2 linked regions of the Homo sapiens genome follow. The protein of the gene in region 2 purifies or fractionates together with the protein of the main gene of each other region. This does not show direct contact. Each region holds a gene or a part of one and is shown on either strand. Other genes may lie near its edges.

Region 1 (3,500 bases), on a different chromosome or scaffold from region 2:
TGGCTACTGCCCTAAGTCCTAAATTGAAAATATACTAAGGGGCTGCTGGCAGCCTGCGCAGCCATTTCCTGTTAAACCAAAGCTGCCCAGCTACGTTCCTGAAAGAGAGCTACAACGGCTAGCGGAGGGAGGGAGACAGCCACGTCAGTCAGGCATCCACCTCCCCTGAGGGTCTGCGGCCTGGCCAGGGTCTGTGGGGCTTCACACATTTGGGTCTGGCTCAGAGCCTCAGGGAGAGGAACCCGGACATCAGGGAAAGAGGAGGGAAGGCACTTGTGTGAGGAGTCAGAGCTGTGAACGGACCTGGGATGATGCGCTGGCCTCAGAAAGGAATTAGCTTAAGGAATGTCCACTGAGAGAAAAAGGTAACACTGTGTTAAAAGACCAAGAGAGAAAAAAAAAAGTCAGCTCCTATGGTGGAATTACAATGAGGGAAAGATGTATCCACAAGTGCTCCCCAATCAAAAGAAAGGGAATGGGGCCTGTGGAGCAGGGGACAGAGTGGGAACACTCAGAGGAAGGAAAAGAACAGGAAGAAGAATCCGCAGAAGAAAAAGGCAAATAAACACACTCCAGAGAGGACAGATACAAGCTACTTACACACAAGCACGCAGGCACGCACGCACGCACACGCAAGCTGCACGCACACCAGAAAGACACAAGGAGATCGGCCAGTCTAGACTCTCAAAGCAAAACCACCAAGCAGAAGCATATCCTGGGAATAGAGGAAGGCAGAGACACTGCAGGGGAAGGGCCAAGTGAGACGCTCCCACTCACACTGTGTGGAGTCCAACGGATGGGGCAGCGTGGCCACCTGGCCTCGCTCCTGCCCAGCCTCCCCCACGGGCTCCCTGGTGCACCTTCACAGCGCCAGGTGGTCGCCAACGTCACTGTGCCCTCCCCTGGGGTTTCTTTCCTGGGTCCAGCTGCTCCAGTTCTCCCTCTAGCTCCAGAGGGCCCTCTCTCATGCTTGCTGGGGAAGTACTGGGGGCTTGGACATTGGTCCTTCTTACAGATGGAACGACAGGGAGCCTCGTGCTGCCGCTCGCACCTACCTGATTGTGCATGAATTTGAGGTTGATCCCTTCCAGGGTCACCTGCAGCAGGCCACCCTCACCAGTCTTCAGGTCCTGCACAGGGAACTCGCCACCCAATTCAGGTCCTGTGGTGAGGGAGGGGGCTATCAGCTCACTGGTGAGGTGGGGAATCCCACCCCTGACTTCCCTGCCAGGCCCCTGACACTCAGAAGGACTGGTAGAAACAGGGAAGACACTCTCAGGAAAAACTCTCCTCACCGGGTTTGATGCTTTGCTGTCGGGCGGCAGCGCGCTCCATGCTGTCCTTCACACAGTAGTACAGCTCCCGACACTGTGGCACAGGGGGAGAGTGGTCCCATCATGAGGGCTGTCCAGGGTTCCCCACCCACTGCTCTATAATGGCCACTGAAGGCTGGAGGTTGAAGTGAGGGGTAAAATTTTAAGTAGTCCTCCTATTTTTCGGATGTCTTATTCATTGTTGAGGTTATGAATGATAGATCCGGAGCATATGAATAGTATGGCTTTAAAGAAGGCATGGGTACAGATGTGTAGGAATGCTAGATATGGTTGGTTAATACCGATTGTGACTACTATTAGGCCTAGTTGGCTTGACAGAGACAGCTTTAGGTACTCCACCCAACAGCTGGAGACAGAAGTGTGGCTCCAGATGTGTGTTTTGGAATTTTAACTTCCCAAAGAGAAATTCACTATTTGGTCTTCAATGCCTACTAGCCCCAACCCAAACACAGATCCTGCGTACCTTTTTAGTATAGAACTTGTTGAGCTGGGTCTCAGAGCCATTTCTACGCCACAAGCACAACACCTTCGTCTTGGGACAGTAGGTCATGTTGATGAGCTTCTCGTACCACCAGCGCTCATACACTGTTCCGATGTTACTACGCAACACCACACAGTCATCGCACACCTGGAGAAGTGCACAAAGCGGCTCAGTGGTTCCTGTCTCTGACAGCCTCTCCCTAGACTGTTTCCTACAGGGAAAGGTGGTCCTGGGGCATCCCCATGGTCAGGTTTTCTGCCTTACGCTCATGGTTTCCCTAGGTGAAGACACAAAACAGAACTACTGACATGCTGCCTGCTACAAGGATTGTTGGAAGAGATGGAGTCATTAGAAGGAACCGATGTATAAGGGAGGAGGCACAAATCAATCAGTTATTTATTACCTCTTTTTTTTTTTTTTGAGACAGGGTCTCACTTTGTACCCCAGGCTTGACTGCAGTGGCGCCATCTCAGCTCACTGCAGCCTCGACCAGCCAGGTTCTTCCTGCCTCAGCCCCCAAAGTAGCAGGGACTACAGGTGCACACCATCACATTGGCTATAATTTTTTTTTTTTTTTTTTGAGATGGAGTCCCACTCTGTTGCCCAGGCTGGAGTGCAGTGGTGCAATCTCGACTCACTGCAACCTCTGCCTTGTGGGTTAAAATGATTCTCCTGCCTCAGCCTCCCGAGTAGCTGAGATTACAGGCACACATCACCATGCTCAGCTAATTTTTGTATTTTTAGTAGAGACAGGGTTTCACCATGTTGGCCAGGCTGGTCTCGAACTCCTGACCTCAAGTGATACACCCGTCTTGGCCTCCCAAAGTGCTGGGATTACAGGCGTGAGCCACCGCGCCCGGCCCAGTTATTTATTACCTCTTATGTGCTCTACGGACTTAAAGTATTTGGAGGAGATCTCATGCCTCCATCTTACAAGCTCAGGAATCATCTTTGTTGACAAACACAAAGGTAGGAGATCATGACAGACTTAACCAAGGAGAAAAATGGAGCTGATGCACTTTCTAATCCTGGGTCTACCCTTTTTCTATAAAAATATTTTTAAAAATTAATTACACAAGTGACACATGAACAATGCTTATTACATAAAAATGATACAATACAGGATGATATAAATTAAAAAGCAAATATCTTTGACACCTTCTTGTTCAACATTCTCTTTCAGGTGAAGTTATCTGTTCTTCTTTTTGAGACGGATCTCGCTCTGTCGCCCAGGCTGGAGTGCAGTGGCGCAATCCCGTCTCACTGCAAGCTCCGCCTCCCAGGTTCACGCCATTCTCCTGCCTCAGCCTCTCGAGTAGCTGGGACTACAGGCACCCACCACCATGCCCGGCTAATTTTTTATATATTTTTTTAAGTAGAGACGGGGTTTCACCGTGTTAGCAAGGATAGTCTTGATCTCCTGACTTCATGATCCGCCCGCCTCGGCCTCCCAAAGTGCTGGGATTACAGACGTGAGCCACCATGCGCAGCCAGTTATCCGTTCTTAAGGCTTCAAATGTTACGGGAGACATTACAGCACAATGGTGAAGGGCACAGGTCTAAAGTCAGCCTGAGTTTAGATTCCAGCTCTGCCATTACTGAGCTGTGCCACCCTGAGCAAGTTCATCTGTGTCCACAATTCCTCACAGGTAAGATGGGGATAGTAACAGTAATAACTTCCTACA
Region 2 (3,500 bases):
TCTCAGAACTGTCATTTATTACTTGTAAAACCTTAAACAAATCACTGAATCTCTCTGTGTCTCAGTTTCCTCATCTTTAAAATGGTCATATAGAACTACTGGGCTGGGCACAGTGGCCACATCTGTAATCACAGCACTTTGGGAGGCCAAGGTGGGAAGATTGCTTGAGGCCAGGAGTTCGAGCCAGCCTGGGCAACATAGCAAGACCTCATCTCTACAGAAAAATTTAAAAGTTAGCCAGGTGTGATAGCACATACCTGTAGTTCCAGCTTCTTGGGAGGCTGAGGTAAGAGGATTGCTTGAGCCCAAGAGTTCGAGGGTGCAGTGAGCTGTGATTATGCCACTGCACTCCAGCCTGAGTAACAGAGATTCCATCTCTTTAAAAAAATACAATACTTAACCTTGTAGAGTTGTAGAACATAAATTAAGTAATACATGTAAAGTGCCTGGCACTTGCAATTGCATGGACAATTGCATGGCAAATATGAAGGGTTAACTCTTTGGGGACAGCAGAGGGAGGATGTACTGTGACCCCATCCTGACCCCTACCTCTGTCCTCGTTCTCTCCAGACATCTCCGTGAGCCTGCTGTCGGTCATCGTGACATTCTGTGGCATTGTCCTTCTGGGTGTCTCTCTCTTCGTGTCCTGGAAGTTGTGCTGGGTGCCCTGGCGGGACAAGGGAGGCTCGGCAGTGGGCGGTGGCCCCCTGCGCAAAGACCTAGGCCCTGGTGTCGGGCTGGCAGGCCTGGTAGGCGGAGGCGGGCACCACCTGGCGGCTGGCCTGGGTGGCCATCCTCTGCTGGGCGGCCCACACCACCATGCCCATGCCGCCCACCATCCACCCTTTGCTGAGCTGCTGGAGCCAGGCAGCCTGGGGGGTTCTGACACCCCTGAGCCCTCCTACTTGGACATGGACTCGTATCCAGAGGCTGCAGCAGCAGCAGTGGCCGCTGGGGTCAAACCGAGCCAAACATCCCCTGAGCTGCCCTCTGAGGGGGGAGCAGGCTCTGGGTTGCTCCTGCTGCCCCCCAGTGGTGGGGGCTTGCCCAGTGCCCAGTCACATCAGCAGGTCACAAGCCTGGCACCCACTACCAGGTGAGAGAGGATACTGGGTTGGGGGTCCACTCTGAACTTCTGCTCCTCCTCTGTGTCTCTTTCCTATCTATAGCTCTTATGAGTTCGGGATTTGGAGGGGAATCGGGGTATTGACTCCTGGATCTTAGGGAAAGAGGAGGCTGGGGCCCTAGACTCCTGGATCTGAGGGAGGTTGGGGCTGTGGGGTCTAGACCCCTTGGACCAGAAGAAGTAGGGGACTGGGGGCCTGAATTCCTGGGTCCAGAGGGAGGAGACTGGGGGCAGGACTTAGGACAGGAAAGTAGAGGAGAATAAGGTTGGATCCCCAAGTCCCCTGTGGCACAAGGCAGTTCACCCCCTTTCACCCTAAGCCAGGATTGGTAGTGGGACCTGGAGTTCCTTCATTCATTATTTCTCAATATACATGTAAATGTATATTGAGCACTGATATAAACTAGGCCTGAGAGGGGTGTTAGGAAAACACCAGACTCTGCCCTCCTGTCACTCACAGCGCAGGGGAGGCGACCCCCAGACTGGCTGTCCTGGTGTAGCCAGGTTGGTGAGACAGGAAAGCGACTCAGGGAACCGCAACTGGGAGAAGGCTGGGAGCTTCCTGGAGGTGGAGATGTCTCAGCTGAGACCTGCAGGCTGAGGGAGAGTTGGGAAGGCAAAGAGGCAGGGCTGTGACCTGGGCATTCCAGGTGAAAGGAGAGGCCCAGGCAAAGACAAGAGGAGAACGAGATCCTAGTGCATTGTGAGGACAGCCCACACCAAGGGGACAGCCAGGGCACCAAGCCTTAGTCACCAAGGCATGAGAATAAGTTTGAAAAACGGAAAACTTCAGGCTGGGCGCAGTGGCTCATGCCTGTAATCCCAGCACTTTGGGAGGCCGAAGTGGGCAGATCACTTGAGGTCAGGAGTTCGAGACCAGCCTGGCCAATATGGTGAAACCCCATCTCTACTAAAAATACAAAAACAAACAAACAAAAATAGCCGGGCATGGTTGTGTGTGTCTGTAATCCCAGCTACTCGGGAGGCTGAGACGGGAGAATCTCTTGAACCTGGGAGCCAAGATTGCACCACTGTACTCCAGCCTGGGCAGCAGAGTGAGACTCCATCTCAAAAAAAAAAAAAAAAAAGAAAGAAAGAAAAAAGAAAAAGAAAACTTCAGAGATGTGACTACAGACACCAGACCACATGGGGCTTTGAGTGCCCGCCTGAGGGTCTGGGACTTTGTCCTGAGGGCACTGAGGAGCCATGGGAGGGCTGTGAGCAGGGGAGGGGCAGGCTCAGCTCTGGGTGTAGAAGGAACCCTCTGGGGCCATATGGGAGTGGGCTGGAGGGAGACACTGGAGGCTGAGAGTCCAGGAGAGGACAAGGCCTGAGCTGTGACCAGGACAGTGGGGATAGAGAGGAGAGACAGCCGGGGAGATTAAGAGAAGGGCAGAAGAGCGTTCAAAGAAGGTCTGCCAGGGGTCCATGGAGAAGCATCCTGGGTCACCAGCTTGAGGTCCAAAAGAGGTTACTGGAAGCTGGTTTATGCACAGGTCTGGGCTGGAGCTAGCTTTGAAATGGGGAGAATGAGGCTGGGTGTGGTGGCTCACACCTGTAATCCCAGCACTTTGGGAGGCCGAGGCGGGCAGATCATCTGAGGTCAGGAGTTTAAGACCAGCCTGACCAACATGGTGAAACCCCATCTCTGCTAAAAATATAAAAATTAGCCGGATATGGTGGTGCATGCCTGTAATCCCAGTTACTCGGGAGGCTGAGGCAGGATAATCACTTGAACCTGGGAGGCAGAGTTTGCAGTGGGCCGAGATCGCGCCTTTGCACTCCAGCCTGGGTGACAAGAGCAAAACTTCGTCTCAAAAGAAAAGGAAAGAAGGAAGGAAGGAAAGAAGGGAGGGAGGGAGGGAGGGAGGGAGAGAAGGAATGCCCCCCAGATACCAATGGGGAATCTGAGGCTCAGAGAGCACAGTGGCTTCCTCAAGCTCACACAGTGAGCAAAGGAGGGGACTTGTGGCCACCTGGCTGGGGGATGGGGGGAAAGGCAGGGAGGAGTCTCCCAGGTCTCTGCATGCAGTCGAAGATCAGAGCCACTGACCTCACCTTGGTCTCCCCCCAACCCCCTACAGGTACCCAGCCCTGCCCCGACCCCTCACCCAGCAGACTCTGACCTCCCAGCCGGACCCCAGCAGTGAGGAGCGGCCACCTGCCCTGCCCTTACCCCTGCCTGGAGGCGAGGAAAAAGCCAAACTCATTGGGCAGATTAAGCCAGAGCTGTACCAGGGGACTGGCCCTGGTGGCCGGCGGAGCGGTGGGGGCCCAGGCTCTGGAGAGGCAGGCACAGGGGCACCCTGTGGCCGTATCAGCTTCGCCCTGCGGTACCTCTATGGCTCGGACCAGCTGGTGGTGAGGATCCTGC

Evidence for each region.
Region 1: the proteins of SYT3 (region 2) and MADD purify together in Homo sapiens (affinity purification with mass spectrometry; 2 studies listed by BioGRID and IntAct, with this or other methods). This does not show direct contact.

What each region holds. Positions count from the first base shown.
Region 1 is NC_000011.10:47,322,133-47,325,632, reverse strand, and holds part of MADD (MAP kinase-activating death domain protein), read right to left. Parts: intron 1,963-3,500; coding exon 1,798-1,962; intron 1,369-1,797; coding exon 1,296-1,368; intron 1,163-1,295; coding exon 1,056-1,162; intron 372-1,055; exon of another isoform or gene 300-371; intron 1-299. UniProt on the Homo sapiens protein: Guanyl-nucleotide exchange factor that regulates small GTPases of the Rab family. Converts GDP-bound inactive form of RAB27A and RAB27B to the GTP-bound active forms.
Region 2 is NC_000019.10:50,629,882-50,633,381, reverse strand, and holds part of SYT3 (synaptotagmin-3), read left to right. Parts: intron 1-570; coding exon 571-1,096; intron 1,097-3,210; coding exon 3,211-3,500. UniProt on the Homo sapiens protein: Ca(2+) sensor involved in Ca(2+)-dependent exocytosis of secretory vesicles through Ca(2+) and phospholipid binding to the C2 domain.